Homo sapiens: one gene and its partners. The protein of the gene in region 1 interacts with the protein of each later gene in a pairwise test. Each region holds a gene or a part of one and is shown in the gene's direction. Other genes may lie near its edges.

What was found.
Region 2: the proteins of FKBP8 (region 1) and MYLK interact in binary tests that used the Homo sapiens proteins (3 or more experiments, as listed by UniProt).
Region 3: the proteins of FKBP8 (region 1) and CYB561 interact in binary tests that used the Homo sapiens proteins (3 or more experiments, as listed by UniProt).
Region 4: the proteins of FKBP8 (region 1) and ELOVL4 interact in binary tests that used the Homo sapiens proteins (3 or more experiments, as listed by UniProt).
Region 5: the proteins of FKBP8 (region 1) and TMEM14B interact in binary tests that used the Homo sapiens proteins (3 or more experiments, as listed by UniProt).
Region 6: the proteins of FKBP8 (region 1) and ARL13B interact in binary tests that used the Homo sapiens proteins (3 or more experiments, as listed by UniProt).
Region 7: the proteins of FKBP8 (region 1) and TMX1 interact in binary tests that used the Homo sapiens proteins (3 or more experiments, as listed by UniProt).

What each region holds. Positions count from the first base shown.
Region 1 is NC_000019.10:18,537,074-18,540,573, reverse strand, and holds part of FKBP8 (peptidyl-prolyl cis-trans isomerase FKBP8), read left to right. Parts: intron 1-853; coding exon 854-1,023; intron 1,024-1,114; coding exon 1,115-1,203; intron 1,204-2,137; coding exon 2,138-2,358; intron 2,359-2,800; coding exon 2,801-2,973; intron 2,974-3,500. UniProt on the Homo sapiens protein: Constitutively inactive PPiase, which becomes active when bound to calmodulin and calcium. Seems to act as a chaperone for BCL2, targets it to the mitochondria and modulates its phosphorylation state.
Region 2 is NC_000003.12:123,702,833-123,706,332, reverse strand, and holds part of MYLK (myosin light chain kinase, smooth muscle), read left to right. Parts: intron 1-2,323; exon of another isoform or gene 2,324-2,467; intron 2,468-3,500. UniProt on the Homo sapiens protein: Calcium/calmodulin-dependent myosin light chain kinase implicated in smooth muscle contraction via phosphorylation of myosin light chains (MLC). Also regulates actin-myosin interaction through a non-kinase activity.
Region 3 is NC_000017.11:63,439,807-63,443,306, reverse strand, and holds part of CYB561 (transmembrane ascorbate-dependent reductase CYB561), read left to right. Parts: intron 1-2,479; exon of another isoform or gene 2,480-2,580; intron 2,581-3,039; exon of another isoform or gene 3,040-3,107; coding exon of another isoform or gene 3,108-3,115; intron 3,116-3,500. UniProt on the Homo sapiens protein: Transmembrane reductase that uses ascorbate as an electron donor in the cytoplasm and transfers electrons across membranes to reduce monodehydro-L-ascorbate radical in the lumen of secretory vesicles.
Region 4 is NC_000006.12:79,941,054-79,944,553, reverse strand, and holds part of ELOVL4 (very long chain fatty acid elongase 4), read left to right. Parts: intron 1-3,500. UniProt on the Homo sapiens protein: Catalyzes the first and rate-limiting reaction of the four reactions that constitute the long-chain fatty acids elongation cycle.
Region 5 is NC_000006.12:10,754,143-10,757,481, forward strand, and holds the end of TMEM14B (transmembrane protein 14B), read left to right. Parts: intron 1-999; coding exon 1,000-1,090; intron 1,091-2,324; coding exon 2,325-2,376; 3' UTR 2,377-2,839; downstream 2,840-3,339. UniProt on the Homo sapiens protein: Primate-specific protein involved in cortical expansion and folding in the developing neocortex. May drive neural progenitor proliferation through nuclear translocation of IQGAP1, which in turn promotes G1/S cell cycle transitions.
Region 6 is NC_000003.12:94,039,155-94,042,654, forward strand, and holds part of ARL13B (ADP-ribosylation factor-like protein 13B), read left to right. Parts: intron 1-725; coding exon 726-834; intron 835-3,500. UniProt on the Homo sapiens protein: Cilium-specific protein required to control the microtubule-based, ciliary axoneme structure. May act by maintaining the association between IFT subcomplexes A and B. Binds GTP but is not able to hydrolyze fit; the GTPase activity remains unclear.
Region 7 is NC_000014.9:51,243,247-51,246,746, forward strand, and holds part of TMX1 (thioredoxin-related transmembrane protein 1 precursor), read left to right. Parts: intron 1-609; coding exon 610-725; intron 726-843; exon of another isoform or gene 844-978; intron 979-2,066; coding exon 2,067-2,112; intron 2,113-3,500. UniProt on the Homo sapiens protein: Thiredoxin domain-containing protein that participates in various redox reactions through the reversible oxidation of its active center dithiol to a disulfide and catalyze dithiol-disulfide exchange reactions.

The sequences.
Region 1 (3,500 bases):
TTAGTGGAGACAGGGTCTCACCATGTTGACCAGGCTGGTCTCAAACTCCTAACCTCAAGTGATCCTCCTGCCTCAGCCTTCCAAAGTGCTGGGGTTACAGGTGTGAGCCACCATGCCTGGTCATTTTTTATTTTTTGTAGAGATGGGGTCTCACTATGTTGCCCAGGCTGGTCTCAAACTCCTGGGTTTAAACAGTCCTCTCATTTCAGCCTCCCAAAGTTCTGGGATTACAGGCATGAGCCACCATGTGTGTCCTTTGCTTAACTTATAAATTCATCCCACTTGGTGCTGTGGTGGGGACACTGTGTCACAGGGGCTCTGCTAACCAAAGGTCCCATGAGCACCTCATTTCATGGCTGGGTAAACCGAGGCCCAAACATCTCAGGGCAAGGATTTCAGCCTGAGGGCTGTTTGTCCTCTCTGAGCTTTGGTTTTCTTTCTTTTTGAGGAGGGTGGGGAGACTGGGTTCTTGCCATTTTGCCCAGACGCTGGGCTGAACTTGTGATTCTCCCACATTGGCCTCTCAAATAGATGGAAACTCGGCAAGTCTCAGTTTTCTTAAAAAAAAAAAACAAAAAAACAAAAAAACCAGACCAACCATTGTTCACTGAGCTGGTCTCTAGCACCAGCACTGTCACCCTGAAGTCTGTCCCATCCTGCCCAGTGTCCTGCACGTGGGGTTCCCCACTCTGGTGGCAGAGTGGCCATTGGAAGTTTGGTTTGTGCCCCAGTGTTGGGCCAGCCCCCTCTGGACAGCTAGTGGGCAGAGCTGAGGGTAGGAGTGGGGGCTCAGGGGAGCGGGTGCCTGTTTGAGCTGCCAGGTGACAGGCTGCATGTCCCTGGACCCTGGCAGGGAACGGGCTGTTGAGGAAGAAGACGCTGGTCCCAGGGCCGCCAGGTTCGAGCCGCCCGGTCAAGGGCCAGGTGGTCACCGTACATCTGCAGACGTCGCTGGAGAATGGCACACGGGTGCAGGAGGAGCCGGAGCTGGTGTTCACTCTGGGTGACTGTGACGTCATCCAGGTGCGGGCTGGGGCGGGACAGGGCAGGGGCGAGGGGCGTGCCTTGCTGGGTCTGAGTCTGCCTGACAGCTGGCTATCCCCACACACCCCAGGCCCTGGATCTCAGTGTCCCACTCATGGACGTGGGGGAGACGGCCATGGTCACTGCTGACTCCAAGTACTGCTACGGCCCCCAAGGCAGGTGAGAGTCAGCCACCCTTAGGTCTCTGCAGGTCTCAGGAGGGGGATGGGTGGAGTGGGTGTACCCCTCGGCTCACCCCATCTACTTGCCCATTTTATAGACAAGAAACTGAGGCTGGGTGAGGTGGCTCACACCTGAAATCCCAGCACTTTGGGAGGTTGAGGTAGGAGGATTGCTTGAGACCTGGAGTTCCAGACCAGCCTAAGCAATATAGACCGCATCTCTATACAAAAAAATTTAAAAATTAGCTGGGTGTGGGCCGGGCGTGGTGGCTTACGCCTGTAATCCCAGCACTTTGGGAGGCCAAGGCGGGTGGATCATGAGGTCAGGAGATCAAGGCCATCCTGGCTAGCACGGTGAAACCCCGTCTCTACTAAAAATACAAAAAATTAGCCAGGCGTGGTGGTGGGTGCCTGTAGTCCCAGCTACTCTGGAGGTTGAGGCAGGAAAATGGCGTGAACCCGGGAGGCGGAGCTTGCAGTGAACCGAGATTGCACCACTGCACTCCAGCCTGGGCAAGAGAGCAAGACTGTCTCAAAAAAAAAAAAAAAAAAAAAAAAAAGCTGGGTGTGGTGCACACCTGTAGTCCCAGCTACTGAGGAGGCTCAGGCAGGAGGATCACTTGAGCCCACGTTTTTGAGGCTGCAGTGAGCCAAGATTGCACCACTGCACTCCAGCCCGGGCAACAGAGTGAGAACCTGTCTCTTAATAAAAAGGAGGAAAACCGAGGCTTAGGGAGGGGAACTCGTTCGTCAAGTCCCGCAGCTCCAAGGCGGCAAGTCACTTCCCCTGCACTTTACTGAGGAGGGAATGATGGAGGGCAGAGGGGAGACAGATCGGGGGCTTGAGCCAAGCTCACTCCTTCCTAGCCAGCCCAGCGGGTTTAGGGGTCACCAGGTCTGAGTGCTGCCCCTGCCTGCTCCCACCCAACTAGCAGGAGCCCATACATCCCCCCGCACGCGGCCCTGTGCCTGGAGGTGACCCTGAAGACGGCTGTGGACGGGCCTGACCTGGAGATGCTCACGGGGCAGGAGCGCGTGGCCCTGGCCAACCGGAAGCGGGAGTGCGGCAACGCCCACTACCAGCGGGCGGACTTCGTCCTGGCCGCCAACTCCTACGACCTCGCCATCAAGGCTATCACCTCCAGCGCCAAAGGTGACCGCCTGGGTCAGATCTCCACCATCTCCCCTGCAAAGGTGTCCACTCCGTGCCAGAAACTTCCAGCCCCAGAGAGCCTCAGACTCAGAATATTCTAGAATAGCCCAGAATATGGGTAGATCCCCAACTGCCCCTAAGCTAGGGCCTGTTACAGACTCGTGGTATATCCCAGACCAGTGGAGTGTTGTAGAATGCAAGTGGATATGGGGATGGGGTGACCATAGACAGGGCCAGTTCACATGTACCACAGGCTAGGCCCTCGCTTGCTTAAGTCTCCATCTTGTAGCTTCCTCAGGAGAGCCCCAGGAAAGCGTGGCCCTTGGTCCGGGGTTAAAATTGGGGAAACTGAGGCCAGAGAGGCAGCCTCCGCAGAGGGGTGGGTGCCGGGGTGTCTGGTGGCATGGTGACGGCTGCCGTGGCGGGCACTGTCTCCCAATAGTGGACATGACGTTCGAGGAGGAGGCACAGCTCCTGCAGTTGAAGGTGAAGTGTCTGAACAACCTGGCGGCCTCGCAGCTGAAGCTCGACCACTACCGCGCAGCCCTGCGCTCCTGCAGCCTTGTGCTGGAGCACCAGCCAGACAACATCAAGGCTCTCTTCCGCAAGGGCAAGGTAGGCCACACCGGGGTGCCAGGCCGGGTCACTCAGCCTGGGGTATACGGGGTGGTCCCCAACCCTGCATTTGAGAAAGGCATAGGTATATAAGCCAGCTGAGCTCTGTGGGGTGCAGGTGGAGAAACTGAGGCCCAGACGGGTGCAGGAGTGTGGCCTGGTCACAACAATTCATTGGCTGAGGCCAGAATTTGATCCTCGAGTCTTGGGTCCCCAACCTTTGGCCCAGTGTTTTTTGTTTGTTTGTTTGTTTGTTTCTTGAGACAGAGTCTCACTCTGTCACCCAGGCTGGAGTGCAGTGGTGTGATCTCAGCTCACCACCGCAACCTCCTCCTCCTGGGTTCAAGCGATTGTCCTGCCTCAACCTCCCAAGTAGCTGGGACTACAGGTGCGAGCCACCACACCCAGTTAATTTTTGTATTTTTAGTAGAGATGTGGTTAGCCATATTGGCCAGGCTGGTCTCGAACTCCTGACCTCAAGTGATCTGCCCGCCTCAGTCTCCCCATGTGCTGAGATTACAGGCCTG
Region 2 (3,500 bases), on another chromosome or scaffold:
TACCCCATCCCCTTAGGTCCTTTGTGACCATGTGCTTTATACCTGAATCAGTTATCTTTTGCTGCATAACGAACCACCCCAATACTTAATAACTATTAAAAATAGCTCGTTTATTTTTAAAGCAGTTTCATTATTTCTTAGGAGTCTTTGGGTCTCCTATAAAGTTCTGCTGATTTAGGCAAGGCTAATCTCAGCTGAGCTCAATGACATGTCTGTTGTGGTCAAGTGATGGGATGCTTGTGAGCTGCTGGTCCCCCTACTATTATTAGCGGTACACTCAGAATGCATCAACTGCCTTTGCATTATGCTTGAACTAGTTATTACCAGGAAGGCCACTCTGCCTCCAAAATGGGGAGAAGGTACACGCTTACCCCCTAGGTCAGTACAAAGAATGGAAACCGATGATGTGTAAAAATACCTGCTGATGATCTCGTCAGTATAGAAGGAGTAGCACTTTGAGATAATACTTACATTACTCAAGCCAGACATCCTAGAGGAGATGAGCTTGTTTGGGGATTTTGATGGAAAAGGAAGGCTGAATCTTGGCAAATGTGATAAGGCTTAGCTGTTGAGTAGGCCGAGCAAGAAAGGGTGGGGTGGGGGCAGAGCCAAGCAAAGGGCTGTGGGAAGTTTGCCAGGCCAGAGAGGAGGCGTGCACCAGGAGGTCGGCAGGCAGACTGTCTGGGGCCAGCTGGGGACAGTCATAAAATTTAGACTGTCCCAGCAGGAAGGGGCTTCAGAAGTTATCCAGCCTCATCGTCATTTAATAACGGGGGACACTGAGGTCTCAGGGTCGTGGACTTGCTTGTGGCCATCCAAAGGCAAGTAACAGAGCCCAAGTTCAAGCCCTCATCTTTTGACTTAAATCAGATGCTCTTCCATTCCTTATGGCTCTGCTTGGGGAGTTTCTCCCAAGTGCACAGGGAACTGGAAGGACCTGGGAAACCACACTGGAGCCTCCAGCCTGCAGCCTTTGCCTCTTTTTCTTCCCCAAAGTCCAGCCTCTTCATTCCTTTCGGAGGCCACTGCCCTGGCCTTGGCTTTTTCCCCACCTGAGAAGAAGCAAGTCAGTGGAGAGTTTCCTGAGGGTACGTGGCAGGCCTGCCAGAGACCTCACTCCTCCAGCAACCTAGACGTAGAGCAGGGTGCCTTTCGAGGGGAATGACTGGATGGCTGGGAGGAAGCCGGGGGTCCGGTGTGCAGGGGGTAGAGGGGTGGGCAGATCCTGCCTGTCCCTGCTAGGATTGTGAGGCAGGTATGGGTGGGTAGTTTCTGCCTCTCTTCCCTTCCTAGCTCTTGTCTACTGTACCAAAAGGGGAAATGACAAAAAGTCAGCTCAAAATTCCAGCTGGAATACTTGAAACACTTGACACTTGCCAGGAAATTAGTTCTTTTTTATTTATTTTTTATTTTTTGACAGAATCTCACTCTGTCGCCCAGGCTGGAGTGCAGTGGCACGATCTTGGCTCACTGCAAGCTCCACCTCCCGGGTTCACGCCATTCTCCTGCCTCAGCCTCCTGAGTAGCTGGGACTACAGGTGCCTACCACCACGCCCGGCTAATTTTTTTTTTTTTTTTTTTTTTTGTATTTTTAGTAGAGACGGGGTTTCACTGTGTTAGCCAGGATGGTCTCAATCTCCTGACCTCATGATTCGCCCACCTCAGCCTCCCAAAGTGCTGGGATTACAGGTGTGAGCCACCATGCCCGGCCGAAATTAGTTCTTTAAAGTAATTTTTCCATATAGAACCCATCCAAGAGGTAGATGATTCAGGGTGGGACAGGATCCAAGGCTTTGTAACCAGAGTGGAACTCTTATTCAGAGCTTAGTAAGCCAAGGCAAAAGGACTCTTTGTGAAAGGTTCAGTTTATAGGATGATAGCCCCATATGCTCTGTGGCAGCTCCTGGGATGGGGCCTCATCTTCAGCCCCGGCCCTGATTTTGTAACTGGTTATGTGCAGATGTCAAAGATGGCCCCAAGACCCTGTTCCAGCAGCTTAGGTGATCTGACATGTGGGTCCCAGGCAGGAGGCCACTATGAACTTTATAGGCTGCAAATGAACCCATGGTTTGCTTTAAAGGCCCAGCAGAGATTTAAGGGTATGGCTGTAGGAATAGTTACTGCTATTGCCCTGCCACCAGGTGATCCACTTAATGCGTCAGCCTTTGTATCCCAAGTCCTCCACCTTTCTCTGACCCCTTAGACTGCTGGGGGCCACAGGGTAAGGCCTGGGGCTGGATTGGACAGGAGCCCTTGAGAGGCTTGTCTGAGTCTGTGCTCCCCACCTTGAGCACAGGTCATGGAAAGTGACAGAAGCCCTTACCTGCTTCCCCCATGGGGAGAATCGGCTTACTCCAGCTTGCGGCACAGGGCTGTCCACCACCAAAGCCTCAGAGGAGTCCAGCTGGGGTAAAGCCGCCATCTGGGCAGTGTCTGCTCCTGATGTTTGCATCTGGGCTGTGTTCTACTGGTGACAGGAGGAAACTCTGCTGAGGAGATGCTGAAAGGGCTGCCAGGCAAACACAGCCCTTGGGCATCTCATCTTCCTGCTCCATGTCAACCCAGGCACCACAAGGCTGTGCTTAAAGGTAGGAAAAGAGTGGCCTGACACTGGCCAGCAGCCTGGCAGAAGCAGGGTGACCTCACACAGTTATTCTACAAGCTCACCCAAAGTCCATAAGCCTTTTTAAGTGTTGAGAACTCGGGGCACACTGAGGACCTCTTCGTTCTCCCAGGGCCTGGCACCCATGAGGTTTCTAATTGCTGTTTGTTGAGCAAAGGAACAACCTGAACTCAAAATTCTCCAGACTTGAGACTCCCTGCACCTTGAATCTGTGCCCTCTGACAGTCTGAGCATTGAGGAGGGTGGCTGGGAGGGGACAGGCTATGGGATACATGGCCAGGGAGGAGAGAGGAGTGAAAGAGCTAAGGCAGTCAGGAAGGCACCTGCACCAGCACAGCCTGGGACAGCACGAGGGCACTGGAGAGAAGGACAAAGGAGAGGAGCCCAGCAGGCGGGAGGAGGGCTGGAGGACAGCAACGATTGGCTTCTCCTTGCTTCAAATGGGTGCCAGCACCCAAGGGTGAGCAGCGCCCCAGAGCCCCTGAGAATCCTGGGCCAGGCCATGGGCTACCAGTGTCTGTCCACTGGGAGGGAGGCCAGGCAGAGTGAGGTGGAGACCCACACACGCCAGCAGAATACACAAGAACGCATGCTCAGATGCCTGTCCAGGTGGATGTAACTCATATGTGCACATATTCCCAAACACAGACCTCCAGGTGCAGGTGCCTGCCAGCTAGACCAGTATATGTGTACATCATGTGTATGGTTGATAACTACATATGTGCATGAACACACACATGTCCCAGACCAGATTTGTACTGATAAGCACAGTAGGGTAGAGTGCAAAGGTCATAGGGTCACAGGTCCCAACCCCTCCCTCCACTAGCAAGCTCTGTGTGTTTAGGCAAATTACTTAACCTTGACCTTCAGTATTATA
Region 3 (3,500 bases), on another chromosome or scaffold:
CAGGGCCTGGTGTCTCTGCATGCACCAGGGCTTAGTGCCATGCTGGTACAAGCGTGGGGAGGATGCAGGAGGACTGGCATGGGATGGGGAGCACTGCCTGGGAAGCCCCTTCTTCCTGGGGCTACTGGGGTGCTAAGAAAGTACCCTAATAGCTCACACCACACTTTGCTTTCTCCTTCATCACATGCTAGGACGCTCTAGGGCAATTGAGCTGTTTTCCCCTTCACCCATCAAGAAGAGATATCGGCCTTTCCGCAGTCACAGTCTTTCCTAACTCAATTCAAACTCTGCTGTTGATAAGGAGGGCTGTAGCCAGCCCAGGCTGCCCGCTTCCCAGCCTCCCCTGCTCCGCCTTCCGCCCCCGAGGCTGTGCACCATGTGCAGTGTCTGGTCCCCAATAATGAGATTAGTCTTGGTTGCCTTTTAATAAAACGCAGTGGGCACCGGGAGGGAGAGCGATGCTTGGCTCAGTGAAGATCTGCGGGTCATGCTGTCCCTAATGCGCTGATTGCATTAAGTGGATTCTGGCTGCAGGTAGGGTGAGTGGGTGGGGACGAGGGTGACTCTCACAGCTCTAAGATCCAGAAACTGCCAGAGATCTGTCACCCTCATCCTGAGCTGTCACAGAGGAAGGCAAGTGACTGTGTGAGGGGCTACGTGAGCTCCCTCTGGTTGCAAGGTTCTGGTCTGCAGGGCAGTGGAGCCCTTGGGGGTGGGGAGTGGCAGCTTCCAGGCCTTGAAGCTGCTGCCCACAGTTCTGCTCTGAGAACACAGAGGGCCCAAGAACAGCCGGTGTCCCAGGGCTGCCCAGTGAGGAGGGAAGAGCGAGAGAGTATTCTTGCTGTCAAGACTGGGAAATGAGGGCCACGATTCAAAGCCTTGCTTCCTAGGGAGAAATCTCACCCAATGTCCAGGTTTGCAAATGCAGCAGACACATTTGTGGGTGGGTCAGATTCTGTCCAGAGATACCAGAATGTCTATCCCTGTACACCCCCACCTCTGGCATGGGACAGCCCTTCCCTGCACACAAATGGGTTATCAATTATGTCCAATGAATGGCCTCACGAGAGTCCTGTTGCGGAAGGGATCTTCCGCTTATCTCCTGTAAAGCACAGAGCCACGCTCAGAACCTACGGACTGTGGTCGCCTGCAGGCCAGCCATGGGCTTTCCTTTCATCCTTACACTTAGATTTTGAAGCCTCGCCTTTGAATCAGAAGCAGGCTGCTGTCATTCCAGAGGCCGCTGTTCATCTCTGGCTTCCTCCCAGATGCCCAGGTGCCCCGGGTGCCTGGGCTGCCTAGGCCAGGGCACCCGCCTTAGGAGCAAATGGAAATGCATCTTCCTCGGCTTGTTTGCCCTCCTGTAACCCCTTCCCTCTTGCCTTCGGTCAGGGCCTGCTGTCTTGCACGCACCAGTGCTTAGTGCCATGGTGGAACCGAGGCGGGGAGGACGCAGGAGGACTGGCACAGGAGGGGGGGCACCGCCCGGGAGCTTCCCCTGCGTCAAAGCAGCTTCCTCAGTGAGCTCCAACACAGACCCTTGCTGGCCTCAGTCTCTGGAAAGACTGACAGCACCACCCTAGTTCCTGGGCCTTGGAAAGGCCAAAGCCACGAGCAGGCAGCCACTGTTCGGCAGGAGAGCTAGAGATGCTATTGCCCACAGACATCAAAGCAGGGGTGCCGTCTTCCGTGTGCATGCTGGGACGGGTCTTGGAGGCCCAGATTAGCTCCTGGCTTGAACTTGTACCACCCTTACCTGAAAATTGGGTCTGTACCAAAGCTCATCTGCACGCCCCTTTAGGGCAGGGACCAGGCCCCCTCTGTGTGGCCCTAGCACCTGGCCAAGTGCAGGTGGCTGCGGGTTGAGTTGAGCTGCTATTTGCTGATGGGAATTTGGGGGCCTGTCGCTTGTCCTCTTTGAGCCTCCATTTCCTGGCCTGTCAAATTGGGGCAATGCTCCTGTTATCCACACAGTGTCATTTAAGGGTGACATTAGAGATGGCATGAAGTGCCCAGCACAGAGCAGGTGCTCACAGGCTGTTGGGTCCCCACCCTACTGACACACCAAGCACACGTCTGCCCTGCCATGGTGGGGAGCAAACAATGTTATGGTTCCGACTCCCCGGGAGGCCAGGCCGGGCATTTCACTGTAGGATGTTGAAGCCGCAGGCAGTCGTCGCTGCGAGAAGAGAGCCTGGCTCTGATGTCCACTGTCTTCCAGGGAGCCTGGTGGGAAGGAAGGAGTGGGCAGCGGCCCCTCGCTCTGCGGGCCTCTCCTGCCCTTTGTACTCCACGAGGTGTGAGGAAGTTGCCGGGTCACCCAGCAGAGGGAGAGGTGATGTCCCCTCTGTTCTTCCTAATTTGTAGCTAATCAGATTCTGCCTGCAGCCAGGCTCTCTGGGGATGAATCTAATAAAGGAGGCGGCGACCTGGAGAGGAGGACAGACAACAAGTGACCAGGGGGGACAGCACTTCTTTCAGTACATTTTCCTGTTAGACTCGGGGTATTAGAGACCCAAAGATACCCAAGGAGGAGTGAGAGCGTCCCTGCCTTCGAGGAGCAGACAGGGCACCGCGAGGGTAAGGAGGCTCCGGGAGAGCCTGGGGACAGAGTGATCTGCGCACCGCGGTGCCTGAGGAGTGGAGGCAGGGGTGTGGGCCCACAGCAGGGAGCCAGGCTGGGCCATGTCCTTGGATTCTGTGAGCCCAGGCGTCTCCTCTAGAGGGCCTAGCAGGAACAGTGGGGGCTGCAGATGGAAACGGGCAGGATCATGCCATGCAGTTGGCATTTCACTGGCACTCGGGGGCACTTACGCAGGGGACAGCATGATGTTGGGAGCTGGCTTTGTCCCTGGCATGTCTGTCACGTTGAAGAGGGAGAAGCTGCAGGCCCTGACTTGGGTGGGGCAGTGAGGATGCTCAGGAGGGAAGTGAGGGGAGGGGTGCCAGCATGCGGCGGCCTGGGCAGCCTTCTGTGGAGGAGCTGAGGTGTCACCTGGGCCCGGAAGAAGGGCAGCCCTGCTAGCTAGTGGGGAGGGCATGAGAGAACTTGGCGACGATGGGAGAGAAGGTGACTTGGGACGAGCTGGGTTTGAAGCGTCTGTGGGATGTCCAGGTAGAGATGAGTAGTGAACCGTCAGAAATGGGGCTTGAATTTGGGGTGGCGGGGACAGAACTGATACCCGTGTAGGTGACAGATAAGGACAGAGGCAGGAGTTCCAAAAATAGGATTTATTGTTGGCTGGGGCTTCTGGAATCCCGTATTCCCGTCCACCCTGGGAATGTGGATTGGAGCTATGTTTCTGGGAGATGATTTGATGGAATGTGTCAGAAGTCTAAAACAGAACCTAGCCCTTGTTTCAGGATTCCCTGCAGAGAAGTTTGCAGATGACCACATCCTGTTGTTTATTTGGTGGAAAACTGAAATCGAAAGCTAGCTAAATGCTGAACAATGGGAACTAGTTGGCTAAAAAATGGCCGTGCAATGCAAGAGTGTGAGG
Region 4 (3,500 bases), on another chromosome or scaffold:
GTTAACAACAAAAATGTTACTTTTACTACAGTATTAACACTTTGTACATTGGAATTGAAAGTTTGAAAGAGCTATACTTTTAGAAAAACAACAAAAATAATTTTTATTTCTCTGTATTTGTAGACATTTTGAACGAGGAAATTAGCGTTGGTTTATGTTAAAGTATAGGCTGGTGTAGGACTTTATACTAGTTGTTAGTATTAGAGTAGGTATTCCATGTCATCATGTTAGTTTTTTTCTTCTATTCTTTCACTTCATGAGTACATTTAAATTATTAGGATTGGAGTCCTAGGCTCAACGTATACATCTAATAAAAGTTGTATATACATTTTTTAAACTGATGAATCTAAATATTCCCCAATCTATGAATACCCAACTTATCTACATTATTCATTTATTCATGCTTTTAATAAATGTTTAATAGCTTTTTTGCATACCTGACATTTAGCATATAAACACCCTAGAGAGTTAGTAGGATGCTTACGGTAAAGCCAGGTGTCTCCTGTGAGGCCATGTATCTTCTGACCATTTGTTTCTAAATAGCTGTTGTTCACAGGGTATGGGTGCTGTCTGTTGGTTGGGGGTGGTAATGATTGGCATTGGCCCTCTTTTCGCAGATATAGTACCCTGCATTTTGGTGAAAAAAATTGTCTACTTGGTAGTTGCAGTTAGAACATAACTTGCTGGGTCCTTGAATTAACTTTGGAGGGGTCAGAAAGAAGGGATGAGTGGTACAGGAAGAGGGAGGAGAGCTGTAGGATGACGAAATGTGGAAGCCAGGCTTATGATACCATTTCTTTCCGTATTTACTTGCCATGTACAGGCACAGTTCTAGGCTCTGGAAAGGAAAGGAGGACACTTGGTCACTGCCCTCATGCATCTTGCAAAGTCTAGGGGGTCACTGTCATTCCCCTTTCCTTGATATCATGGTCTGGAGGCAGTGTGATCTGTCAGACTCAGGACTAGCTGGGGCCTAGGGAAGATCAGAAAAGTCCTTCCCTGCTCTTCTCATCTCTACTTCTCCTAAGTGAAAGGAATATACAGTTGTTTTTAGAATATTTTAGCTGTTTCACCACAGTTTACTTCCCTCTACCCTTGAATGAGGAGTTGATGTGAGTACTGTCAGAGTATTTGGAGAGGCATACTAGGGCAAAAGGTGTCAAAGGCAAGGGGAACAGCTTGACTGAAAACCATGGAAACTGGGAAGGTGCTTAAGGGTCAGGCCAGTGAGTCATCCAGGTTTGATGAAGCTGGGGGCTAGTGGGAGGGGATGTTTAACTCAGCTCAAATAAGCTGAAGTAAAAGCAGGTTTGTCTTAGGGATTGCTAGGTCCCAGAGGAGCATGTATTTTAAGTATTGTACAGTATGCTTACATTAATTTTATTATTCGTCACAGTTAATGTTTAGTTTTTCATCTATGTTATTATCTAAAATAGGTTTATTTGTTTGGCTAAGCCTGGTAATGCAGTTTTCTTTGAATGTTTCTTTGAGAAAAGACATTCTGATTCCAAGTTGTAGGCAGCTAATTAAAAAAAAAAAAGAAAGAAAGAAACATCACCAGCTCCTAACATGGGATCTCCCTTGGTCACTGTTTTCAGTGACGTCCTAATTATCCTTTACTCATAAGCTCCTTGAAGCCTCTGGGATGTCCATGCCATTTTATGGTTTTTTGTTTTGGTTTGGTTTTTATTGTCTTTTCCTTCACCACAGTTTGATTTTTGGTGGTAGACTGCTAGACTTTAATAGCTAATGCTCTTATCCATTCCCCAATGATAGCATAAAGTAAAACATCCTATTGCAGATGGAATTCCAGGAGGGTAAACAATGCAGGTTCTAAAACGGGTGTCAGGACACAGTTTTAACTATTTTAACTTAGATTCTTTGGCTTAGGAAGACAAAGTTTTAAGAATTATGCAGATAATTATATCAGATGGCACTTTTGTAAACTTAAGAGCCACAGAGCACTTGGTCATCCTTTAAAAATTCAATTTGTTTTCTTATTTTTTTGCTCAAGTCCTGTGGATAATGTCACCTGTAAATGCTTTAACATTATTAACGTAAGTATTTTCATTTGTTAAGCCACTTATTATTCTGAATTAGGCATATATTAGCACACCGAAATGAGTAGTGTAACAGTCTATCTTTTTTCACTTTAGATGTTTTTTTCGTCTTCATTATCAGGACATTTTGCCTGTTAACAAACGAAGGTACTATTGTTTTATTTTCTATTAGAATATATATTTTAAAATCATGTGGGTTTGGATTTCAGAAAGGAGATGGGAGGAAACACATGGCCTTTTAAAGCCAAGGTCCACATTAACTTTCTCGCTTGATCCTTCAGTATTCCCCTGCCCAAAGACCTGCAGCTCTAGCCAACTGGGATAACTCACTGACCCTTAAGTAAAATGTGTACATGTCCACCTTTATGTTTCTCATCCCACCATTCCCCTTGCCTTTACCCACCTTTTCCCTGTTTACCTCTCCAGATACCTTTTACCAGAACCCAGTACAATAGTCCTCCTTTGCAAAGCCTTTCTTGTTTATGGTACCCTGGAGCAAGTTGTTGTCTCACAGGAGCTCATTGTCTTTAGTAATTACTCACGTATTTCCTGTGCCATTCCTTCTATGACCCTAGTGTCAAACTGTTTAAACTTTCGTTATTATTTACCACTTCACTCCTTTGTATCTTTCTCTCCAACATCAGAGATTATCACATATATTTGTTGATATGATATGTATCAGGAGATGACCCTCTTAATCTAGCATAATTTTGAATCATGATATATTGTGGTTGCTAAACATGAATAAGGCTTTAGACCACACTAAATTACAGAAGGTTTTTGTTTTTGTTTTTCATAGAGTGGGGATTTCACCATGTTGCCCTGGCTGCTCTTAAACTCCTGGTGTCATGTGATCTGCCCACCTCAGCCCCACAAAGTGCTGGGATTACAGGCACGACCCACTGTGCCCGGCCAGAGAGTTCTTTAAAAGAATGATATTTTTTATGAGTTGGTCATTAATTCAGTTGCCGTTCACTAAATTTAATGAGTAAATCAGGCCATTAAGTCATTTAGAAGCACAAAACAGATAAAAAATGAAGATTCCAAGACATATAAAATCAGATATGATTGTTCTCTTCATTGTCTGTGCAGAAGCATTGCCTTGTGTGGAAGTGAGGAGGGCAGTGTGGTATAGTGAATGGGAAGAATTCTGGACTGGGATTTAGATGACCTAGGTTTTAGTCCTGGTCTGCTGCTGATTTGCTATGAGAGTTTGGACAAGTTCCTTTGCCTTCCCAATTCTCAGCATTGTTCTCTGTAAATTAAGAGGGTTAAATTAGGTAATCTGTAAGGTCCTACCTGACTCTAAAAGTCTAGATATAGATATCACTTTCTTTATTCTTGGAATAGGTAAAGCAATTTCAAATAAATATACATTTATCAGGGATTCAGAAACCTCATTCTTTATAGTAAATAAAATTTTTTTCCAGCAAAACTGTT
Region 5 (3,339 bases), on another chromosome or scaffold:
CTGGGAGGTAGAGGTTGTAGTGAGCTGAGATCATGCCACTGCACTCCAGCGTGTGTTGCAGAGTGAGACTCTGTCTCAAAAAATAATAATAATAATGCAACTCTTTTTATGCATCCCTCTGCTTAGTATCCTTTAATAGCTTCTCATTGCTCTTATGATGAAAACCCAATCCTTAGTATGGCCTTCAAGGCTCTATGTGGTCTGGCGCCTCTTACTCACAAACTGCATCTTGACTTCTGTGCCACGCTGCCCTTTTAGGGTGAATGTGCCATGCTCCCTGTCACCACAGGGCCTCTGCATATACTGTCCCCTCTGCCTGGAAAGGGCATTCCCATCCTTCAGCTTATTAACGCCTGCTGTAATTTCAGATCTCAGTCAGTCTTCACTTCCTTGGCTAAAAGCCTAGCATGATCTCCCTGAATAGGTTGATCCCCCTGTTGAGCTTTTTTGTGTAGCATCAATTATACCTGAAGCACACATTGTACCTTGTTTTTCTTTGTGTGATTGTTTAAAGTCTTGTCCCATCAGACCTGAAGCATTGTAAAAGGGCAAAGACAGTTACGATTACTTTTGTATTCTCCAGCTCCTAGCACAGCGCTTGACATGTAGTAGGTGCTTTGACAGATACCCAGTGGGAATTGCATGCAGGGTAGAGGAAATAGCGTCTGCAGGGCGATAGCATCTGCAGGGCATGAGAAACAACAGCATTTTGGAGAAAACTAACACATTGATGGCTAAAGTGTGGGTTTTGCAGAAGACAAGTGGTAAGAGATGAGGCTGGAAGGGCAGGTAGGGCCCAGGCTGTGAAGGGCCCTATTTGGCCAGTATTGGTATTTGGACCCATAGGATGTGGGCAGCTAGTAATCTCCCCTACTTGGGGAAGGAGGAATAAGCATAGGATGAGGCGTGAGCCTTGAGAGATTGGTGGGGCTTGGTCTACTTCTGATTCCCCTGCGTAGAAGACTAATGAGTTTTGACCCTTCTTTGTATCTTTTTCAGCCGCTACATCTGTTACTTTTGTTGGTGTTATGGGAATGAGATCCTACTACTATGGAAAATTCATGCCTGTAGGTTTAATTGCAGGTGCCAGGTACTTTCATTCTATTACTCTTCTTTACCATGTAGAGTTCAGTTTATTGCCCAGAATACTTTATGCATTCAAAACCTTACTTGTTTCAGAGTATCTGATGCTATGCATCAACTGACGTTTGACTTATACACTAATAGGAGATGCTTCAAAAACAATAGTTGATTTAATGTCAAATGACATGAGTATATCCATTCACTGTGGAGATGGCTTTGTTCTCTGGTCCTAGCTCCTTCCTATATGGTGGCAGAAGTTTTATTGCAAAGCTATGACTGCAGCCTTTTGTGTGACTTGCGGAGGATGTGTGGGGGTCCCATATTTCTTAGGTGTGTAGGTGTCTTTTGTAGAAAATTTTGCTAAAAGGAAATTTTGATTGAATCCTGTTTTCTAATTTTGATTATAATACCTAAACCAAATTGTGGTTTTTAAAAAATGTAGTTGTAGGCCAGGCACGGTGGCTCACACCTGTAATCCAAGCACAGTGGGAGGCCATGGCGGGCATATCACTTGAGGTCAGGAGTTTGAGACCAGCCTGGCCAACATGGTGAAACTCCTCTCTATGAAAAATACAAAAATTAGGTGGGTGCGGTGGTGCACGCCTGTAATCCCAGCTACTCGGGAGGTCGAGGCAGGAGACTTGCTTGAACTGGGGAGGCGGAGGTTGCAGTAAGTTGAAATCGTGCTGCTGCACTGCAGCCTGGGCAACAATGAGTGAGAGTCTGTCTCAAAAAAAAAAAAAAGTTCACTTGTTAAGTATGATAAAGACATCCTGAAGGCAGGGGAATTTTTAAAATCCTGTTTTCAAGAAAGATTACATACTCTACTCTGATCATAGTCGTGATGCTGCCAGTATAATATTTTATACCTGAAGCAAAAGAGTCAGTATGGAGCAAGGTCTAGAACAGTAAACTGAGAGGCTGGAGTCTACCATAAATCAGATCTGTGATGGTGGGGAGGCCTTGCTTTCTCTTGCCTCCATTTCTTCATCTCTTCAAATTACTGGCAGTTGGATTAGGATCTAGCTCATGTGTGCTATTTTAAGACCTCAGTGAAACTGTCCCTTGGCTTGCTTTTTCTCTGGTTCCCCCAGGGATGGAAATTTTACCTCTGACCACTCTTGCCTTAGTACCTCCTCCCCCACACAGTTGTGAGGAACCTGCAGAGTTTAGTTCCTTAAAAACATAGTTGCCTGTTCTATCCTTTACCTGATGTTTTCTATCTTACTTGTTTTAAACAGTTTGCTGATGGCCGCCAAAGTTGGAGTTCGTATGTTGATGACATCTGATTAGCAGAAGTCATGTTCCAGCTTGGACTCATGAAGGATTAAAAATCTGCATCTTCCACTATTTTCAATGTATTAAGAGAAATAAGTGCAGCATTTTTGCATCTGACATTTTACCTAAAAAAAAAAAGACACCAAATTTGGCGGAGGGGTGGAAAATCAGTTGTTACCATTATAACCCTACAGAGGTGGTGAGCATGTAACATGAGCTTATTGAGACCATCATAGAGATCGATTCTTGTATATTGATTTTATCTCTTTCTGTATCTATAGGTAAATCTCAAGGGTAAAATGTTAGGTGTTGACATTGAGAACCCTGAAACCCCATTCCCTGCTCAGAGGAACAGTGTGAAAAAAAATCTCTTGAGAGATTTAGAATATCTTTTCTTTTGCTCATCTTAGACCACAGACTGACTTTGAAATTATGTTAAGTGAAATATCAATGAAAATAAAGTTTACTATAAATAATATTTCCTATGGTGTCTTCATTGCCAGAGCTGGTCTAGTTCATAGAATGAGATGTTGCTAGATATAGAAACTTGAAAGTATTTTGTTGATATTTAGAAATTACCTATTTTGAGTAATTTAAGGACCAAGGAAAGTTATTTGATTGTACATTGCATTGAAGCTTGTTTCAAAAATGATCTCTGAGGATTTTTTTGTTTGTTTTTTAAGAGACAGGGTCTTTCTCTGTCACCTAGGCTGGAGGGCAGTGGTACAATCATATCTCACTGTAGCCTCAAACTCTTGGGTTCAGTCATCCCACTTCAGCCTCCTGAATAGCTGGTACTACTGGTGCATACCACCTCGCTAATTTATTTTATTTTTTTGTAGAGATGGGGTCTTGCTCTGTTGCTCAGGCTGCTATCAAACTCCTGGTCTCATGCGATTCTCTCTCCTTGGCCTCCCAAAGTGCTGGGGTAATGAGCATGGCCACTGAGGATTTCTAAGATTTAGGACTGTGTAGCAA
Region 6 (3,500 bases), on another chromosome or scaffold:
TTCCTAGTTTTGTAAGAGAAGACTTAGCCCTTAAGAAAAGAATTAATAAGAATAATTACTATTTGGCTGGGCGCGGTGGCTCACACCTGTAATCCCAGCACTTTGGGAGGCAGAGGCAGGCAGATCACAGGGTCAGGAGATCGAGACCATCCTGGCTAATAGGGTGAAACCCCGTCTCTACTAAAAATACAAAAAATTAGCCAGGCCTGGTGGCGGGCGCCTGTAGTCCCAGCTACTCAGGAGGCTGAGGCAGGAGAATGGCGTGAACCCGGGAGGTGGAGCTTGCAGTGAGCCGAGATGGTGCCAATGCACTCCAGCCTGGGCGAGAATGCAAGACTCCGACTCAAAAAAAAAAAAAAAAAAAAAGAATAATTACTATTTGTTAACACCAGTAAAGAGGACAGCATTGATTTTGGAGGGTAATTAATAAGTTGATCAGTAATACCCTTGGCACATGGAAGAATAATTGCACTGTTGATATTAAGAAGTCACTCATAGGAAATGTCATTTTTATCAGCATTTTTTTAATTGAAATGATTAGTCTTTACATGGGAGGAAGCAGCCTCTTACCTGCATAAGGATTTTTGAAATGCTCTCAGTAATTCAAAACCATGTCCAGATGTTTAAATTACTACATGTAATAGCCTTATACCTATTGCAGTTTTCTTTAACATGGTTCAGCACTTTCTCAAAGGAAATTTCAATTATTTTTCCTCAAACGATAGAAAACAAAATGAACAGGAGCAGGCTGAACTCGATGGAACCAGTGGTCTGGCTGAGTTGGACCCAGAACCAACGAATCCTTTCCAGCCAATAGCATCTGTAATCATTGAGGTATGAATGATGGCAAATGTAATTTTTGTATCTTAAGTTATAAGTTGGAACTTGGAAAAGAAGGTGGAAAGTTGGGAAAGGAGGCAGGGAAACAGATGTGTTTCTTCTGAGAGATTATTTCTATAAGAAATTAAACATGAGAGACTGATTAAAGGTTTACTGCTTTTTCTTACTCTTAAATTACCTTTGAATCTAGTGTGAAAGGGGGAATATGACTTCAGAATTAAATGACAATAAATAAATTTGACTGTAGCAATTATTATAGTTGCTGTGTTGACAAATCTATTCTGTCATTTATTTCATATAGTAATAACATATTTACTCTTATTTACATTTTCTGTGTTTCTGTATTGCTGTTACTGTCCATCTGCAATATTTACTTAGAATGCATTAGGGTACATAAACAATTTTCTATTTTTCCAGGATACTTAAGGATGTTTGAAACTGCAATAAATTCTCCTATATCTGAATATCATTTATTTCCATTTTAAATCAGAAATTTTACCAACATTAATTTGTAGATTTTAATTATGAAGACGTTAAGGGGTTGTGTGTGTGCGCGTCTGTGTTTTTGTTTTCATTTTCTGCTCATGTCCAGAGTTTGCATTGGCTCTGCTTTTATGGCTGGCAGCAGCGATGCCTCTTCTGAGGCATTGCTTCCTAAACCTTAGGCTGACTTCCTGGTCCTACCTGGAAGGTTTTTTTTTTTTTTTGTCTCCATTCTATCAGATATTATATTTGTCAAGTTTTGTTTTATGTTCTTTTAAAAATATTGAGAGAGAAGAGGTCAAGTTGTACTTTTTACTTTGAAACAACAATTATTCTCTGTGTATAATAAGGCTTGCTTTATAAATAATGGCTAATTATTTTATAGTACCATGGGTATAAATTGTGTAGAAGGCTCTAGTGCTTCTCCCAGCACCGTATTTCCCACAATGTATAGAAGTGAATAATAGTGGTGTACGACATAGTATATATCACATATAGAAAGTTCCCAAATTAATAAGTGGCATGGGGAAAGTACACTTAACGCTTTGAAACTACAATTTCAAGAAGATGGCCAGTAAAGAAATAAAAGCAAATTAGCTATAGTTTTTTTTTTTTAACCATACAGATTTTCTCTTTTTTTCCCCACAAAACTTTTTTAGCATGTTTCTTGGTACAGAAGCACCTAACATTTTTTTTTATTATTACTGCAGATAATTAAAATGGTGAGATATTGGAAGGTATTGGTTCCAGAAGAGACAGACAGATCAATGGAACGAATATTAATAAACCTATTTATGTATGAGCATTTTAGTACAAGATAAAGATAACATTTCAAATCTGAGAGAAAAAAATAATAGAACAACTTAATAACCATTTAGAAAAAGGAAAATTATTGAATATTGTATACCCAGTTAAATTCCAAAAGTATCAAAAACTTAAATACGTTTTAAAAAGTGAAAGTCTTCAAGTTACTAGTAGATAATATAGATAAGTCTTTATATGTGCTTGGAGGAGGAAAAAATTTCAAAGCAGGACAAGCAAGCCACAAATCATAAAGGAAAAAGGTGGATAGATCTTATACTACCCAATTTTTAAAGAGCTATTCTACAAAGTTAAAAAGCAAAAATGAAAAGAAGTAAACTCTAGTGAGAAATAGAACACATAGTCTTATGTGACTCTGTGACTAGTCCTAGTGACACGTATGCACAAAAGAACTCTTACAAATTACTATGAAAATAATGAGAATCTAATAGAAAAGTGGGCATTGGGTTACCAAAGGCAGTTTCCTAAAAAAAAATTAAAAATGTCAATAAGTGGCCAGGCACGGTGGCTCACGCCTGTAATCCCAGCACTTTGGGAGGCCGAGGTGGTTGGAGTTCAAGACCAGCCTGGCCAAGACGGTGAAACCCTGTCTCTGCTAAAAATACAAAAAATTAGCCAGGCGTGGCACGAACCTATAATCCCAGCTACTCCGGAGGCTGAGGCAGAGAATTGCTTAAACCTGGAGGGGTGGAGGTTGCAGTGAGCCGAGATCGTGCCACTGCACTCCAGCCTGGGCGACAGAGCGAGACTCCATCTCAAAAAAAATAAAATAAAATAATTCAATAATAGTTCATTTTTGCTGGCAATAAAAATTTTAACTTAAACTCAAATGAAAATAACACTAAGTTAAATAAAAATATGTATTAATACGGCAGAGATGTAAAAGGTCAATCATGATATGTGGTATTGAATATGATGTAGAAAAAAATCACTCTCCCAACCCTTTGCCTGAGGTTCATTGATTCATTTTTTCTGAAGGGAAGTTTGTGACTATATGTGACATTTTTAAATTTGCCTACCCACTGACTCAACAGTTCTACTGTTAGCAATTTAATCTAAAAAAATTAAAAAAAAGCTATTAGGATGATTCTGTTTTTTAAAATAGTGAAAAATTGGAAATACTTTGTTCATTGATACAGAATTGGTATGCTATAAACATTCAAAATAATAATTGATGAAAATAATTGTATCTAACATTTATGTAGCATTTACTATGTGTAAGGCACTGTTCTGAGCACTTTATATATTCATTGGCATGGAAAGAAATGTATATTCTTCAATAAAAACTTCAATTCTTTTTTGTTTAAACAACAAATACATAAGTATATATAGATACATATATTTATGTATGTTTC
Region 7 (3,500 bases), on another chromosome or scaffold:
GACCTAACTGGCCAAGAGTTTTGTTTGGCCTGCTTAGTATTTGTGTGTGGGTTATTTTTTGAGGTAACATTCTCATATAAAAATGCAGCTCTCCATCTTCTTTTAAATATGAATAGCCAGCCTTAGTGTGCCAGCATCCTTAGTGGCAATCCTACTTAATAATGGTTGCCACTTTAAGATGGAATATGTGCTTTCTTATTCACCACAGCCCAGGACACTTCTGTTTTTCCAACACCTTGCATTTGTGACTCTGCATTATAAATTATTAAAATTGGTAAGCTCTAACTTTGGTCTTGAGCTTTCTGGTGGCCACACCGTTAATAGAGAAATGCAAAAGTTTTCTAAAGAGCTGTTTTGCATGTGAAAAAATCCTGTGTCTTATTCTCAGAATTTTATTTGATTAGCATCATCAGTTCATCATTCTTGATTTCCGGATTGTTAGATCTACCCTTAAAAGTTTTTCATCTGCATAAAATTAACCACCTTATCATCTTCAGTGTTTTCATATGAAATATTCTTCATAAATTATACATTTAAATTTTTTATCCCAAGATAAATGGTCATACTAAAGTGCTTAACTTTTTTTAAAAAAAAATCTGTATTTCTTAGTTATGCCCCGTGGTGCCCTGCTTGTCAAAATCTTCAACCGGAATGGGAAAGTTTTGCTGAATGGGGAGAAGATCTTGAGGTTAATATTGCGAAAGTAGATGTCACAGAGCAGCCAGGTACTGTAAGTCTTTGGTTAGTTTTGTTTCTTTGCTGTTTGGGTTGATATATTTATCCTTTTTTCTACATTGCATAGTCTTAATTCTACCTTTCTTTAGGTTTTGAAAACCTAACAGTCTGCAGCTAGTTAACCTGACTTGTCCACCTCCCTGCTGGGGGCTCAGTGTGCAATGGTTGCAAAATGGAGATTCCCTGGTTGTGTATACACCTCATTTCTTGAATGTGTTGCTTTAAGGGTTCTTGAAGACATTACCCTCTTTTTATTCTTGCCCACATAACTGCCTCTGATTTGTTGTTCTTTGCATCCCAGGCCCCAGACTAGTATGTAAGATGCCTTTGAGAAGTCCTAGGACACTGTGGTTCAGGTGAACATTGGCCAAGCCACATTTGCATCCATACCAGGCTTCAGAATAAGGAGCATGTGGTTGAGTGTTTTTCTGGAGTCAAGGTCACGTTCCCTGACAAAAGAAGACCTGAATCTCTGAAATTGAGTTTTAAATTTAGTACCTATGATTTGAGGATGTGGGCTTCTAAATATAAAGCCCTCGTGGTTGTGAGGTCAAGTGCACTCCTGACTTGGTCCCTGGACAAGTGGCAGGTCCTGCCCTTAAGGAGGTTCCTTCCACAGACCAATCTCATCTTACCGTTCTCGGTAGTCACACTACCCTTGGATTCTTGGCTGTCCCATCCCAAATGGTAATAATAGGTAATATTTATCGAGCGCTTGCCTATTATAGCACTCTTCCAAATATCTTGTGTTTATTATTTAATCCTTATACAACCCCGTGAAATATGTAATGTCCCCATTTCACAGATAAGAAAACTGAGGCACAGGTCAATTCTCTGTAATATCAGTGCTTGACACATGGCTAACAATAAATGTTAGCTGCTATTATTTTTGCCTGTCTCATGAAAGATTCATAGTATTTTCCATTTTTAGCAGCACCATAAACTGCCTTTGTTTGTTGAATGTCAAGTACAATTCCATTGGATTTTAGATCTAAGACCCTATTACCTTGTGCTCTCCCATGAGCACAAGGTGCTCTTATTACTAGTAGTCTTAATTTTGACAGTGATATAAATGTTGAAGTGTTTTTATTTAAAAATGTATTCAGTACTCTAGTTCTACATACTTTTTAACTGAGATAATGTGCAGTATTGTGTTTTTTAAAGTTGCTTTAAGTACATAATTCATTTTTAAATTATGTATTACGAAGCTCAACTATTAGGTATAATTTCATATTCTTTCCTATTAGTATGTATTTAAATAATTCAAAGTCACGTTTTAAGTAGTCAGTGATTGGCCTATGTAAAACCTGCTGTGTGTTCTTTATTTGTAGGACTGAGTGGACGGTTTATCATAACTGCTCTTCCTACTATTTATCAGTAAGTATTTGAAGATTCTAAATTATGGAGAAGGATGCATTATAGTGTAATCAGAAGTAGTAGGCCTCTGGCTTGGATCATGCTGGAAGAGCTGAGGTAATCTCATTATATTCAGCAGGTATTTTAGAGGGCTTGTTTTGCTTAGTGTTATCCTAGGTGCCTTTAGGTAGTTGAGTGATGTGTGAAACAGTCTCTGTTCTCAAAGATTTACAGTTGTTTTGGAAAGTGATGTTCTTGTGAAATGGTGTGATCCTGTTCAGCGTGTTAAGTCATTATGCATCCAAAGTAGTGGTGAGTCCTGTAGGTAATTGGATAAAGGAGAAATCACAGTTACCTGGATTGGTTCCCAGAGAATATGGGGTTTAAATGAAACCTTGGAAGTAGAATTTTAAGAGTGGAGCGTAAGCATTTTATTGTGAGGACAATCTCATAAACAGTCATTAACAGGAACATGTTATGTCCAAAAAGTAGCTAAGAAAGTGCTGTTGTACAGCCTTGGGTAGAGTAATAGGTGACAGTTGGGTAATAAAACAGAATGAGCAAGATTATGTAGTCTTCAGTGTCAGGTCTATTAGTTTGACTTTATCTTCTAAATTGAGGGTATGAAATCTCAAGTCTGTGTACCCCAACATCATGTAGCTGGTAGGTTAAATACCAGGAGGTACTGAAAATAAGTTGACAATTCTTTGTATTTATAGCTTGCTTTTCTTTGCCCTTTTTTCTTTTTTTTATGGTTTTAAAATTCACCCCTACTCCCTTTACATCTATATAAATTTCTGTTCGCTGTCTCCATAAGTGCTTCTGTCCTGCCCTTCTCATTCAGTCCTTTTCCCCACGTGCCCCTTCAGTCTCTCCCTTTGCTTTTCACTTCTTAGTGCCCTGTGACCTTATTTGGAATTTCCTGCCCTTTTTCTTTTAGTCAAAATTGTTTACCATATCCTTTCTCCTGTTTCCTGCCTGTCGAAATCTTACCTATGCTTCAAATAATAGCTCAAATGACACTTCACAAAAACTTTGTGTTTTGGGGTGGGGGGCTTCCTCGTGGTTTTTACCTCTGAGTGGATAAAGGGTCCCTTAACCCTACTTAACAGGTCCCTAGTAGGGAGCTGATGAGTTTTTGCACTTAAAGATGTTGGAGCCAAGAGAACATTTGTGACTCTGACAGAACTTTCTACATTGGGAATGGGAAGGAGGAGGTGGATCTAAGGAAGGCTGCAAAGCTCACTAAATAGTCACTGAAATGAGAGGAAGGGAAGCACCATACCAGATGCCTCCAGTGATTTAAAGCAGGGTGTCTGAGGTGATGCTATTATAGCCAAAAGTACTAGAAAAATGCCTTAAAATTTTAAGTTATAGCTTAACAGCTAATAATTACTATGTGCCAAGCA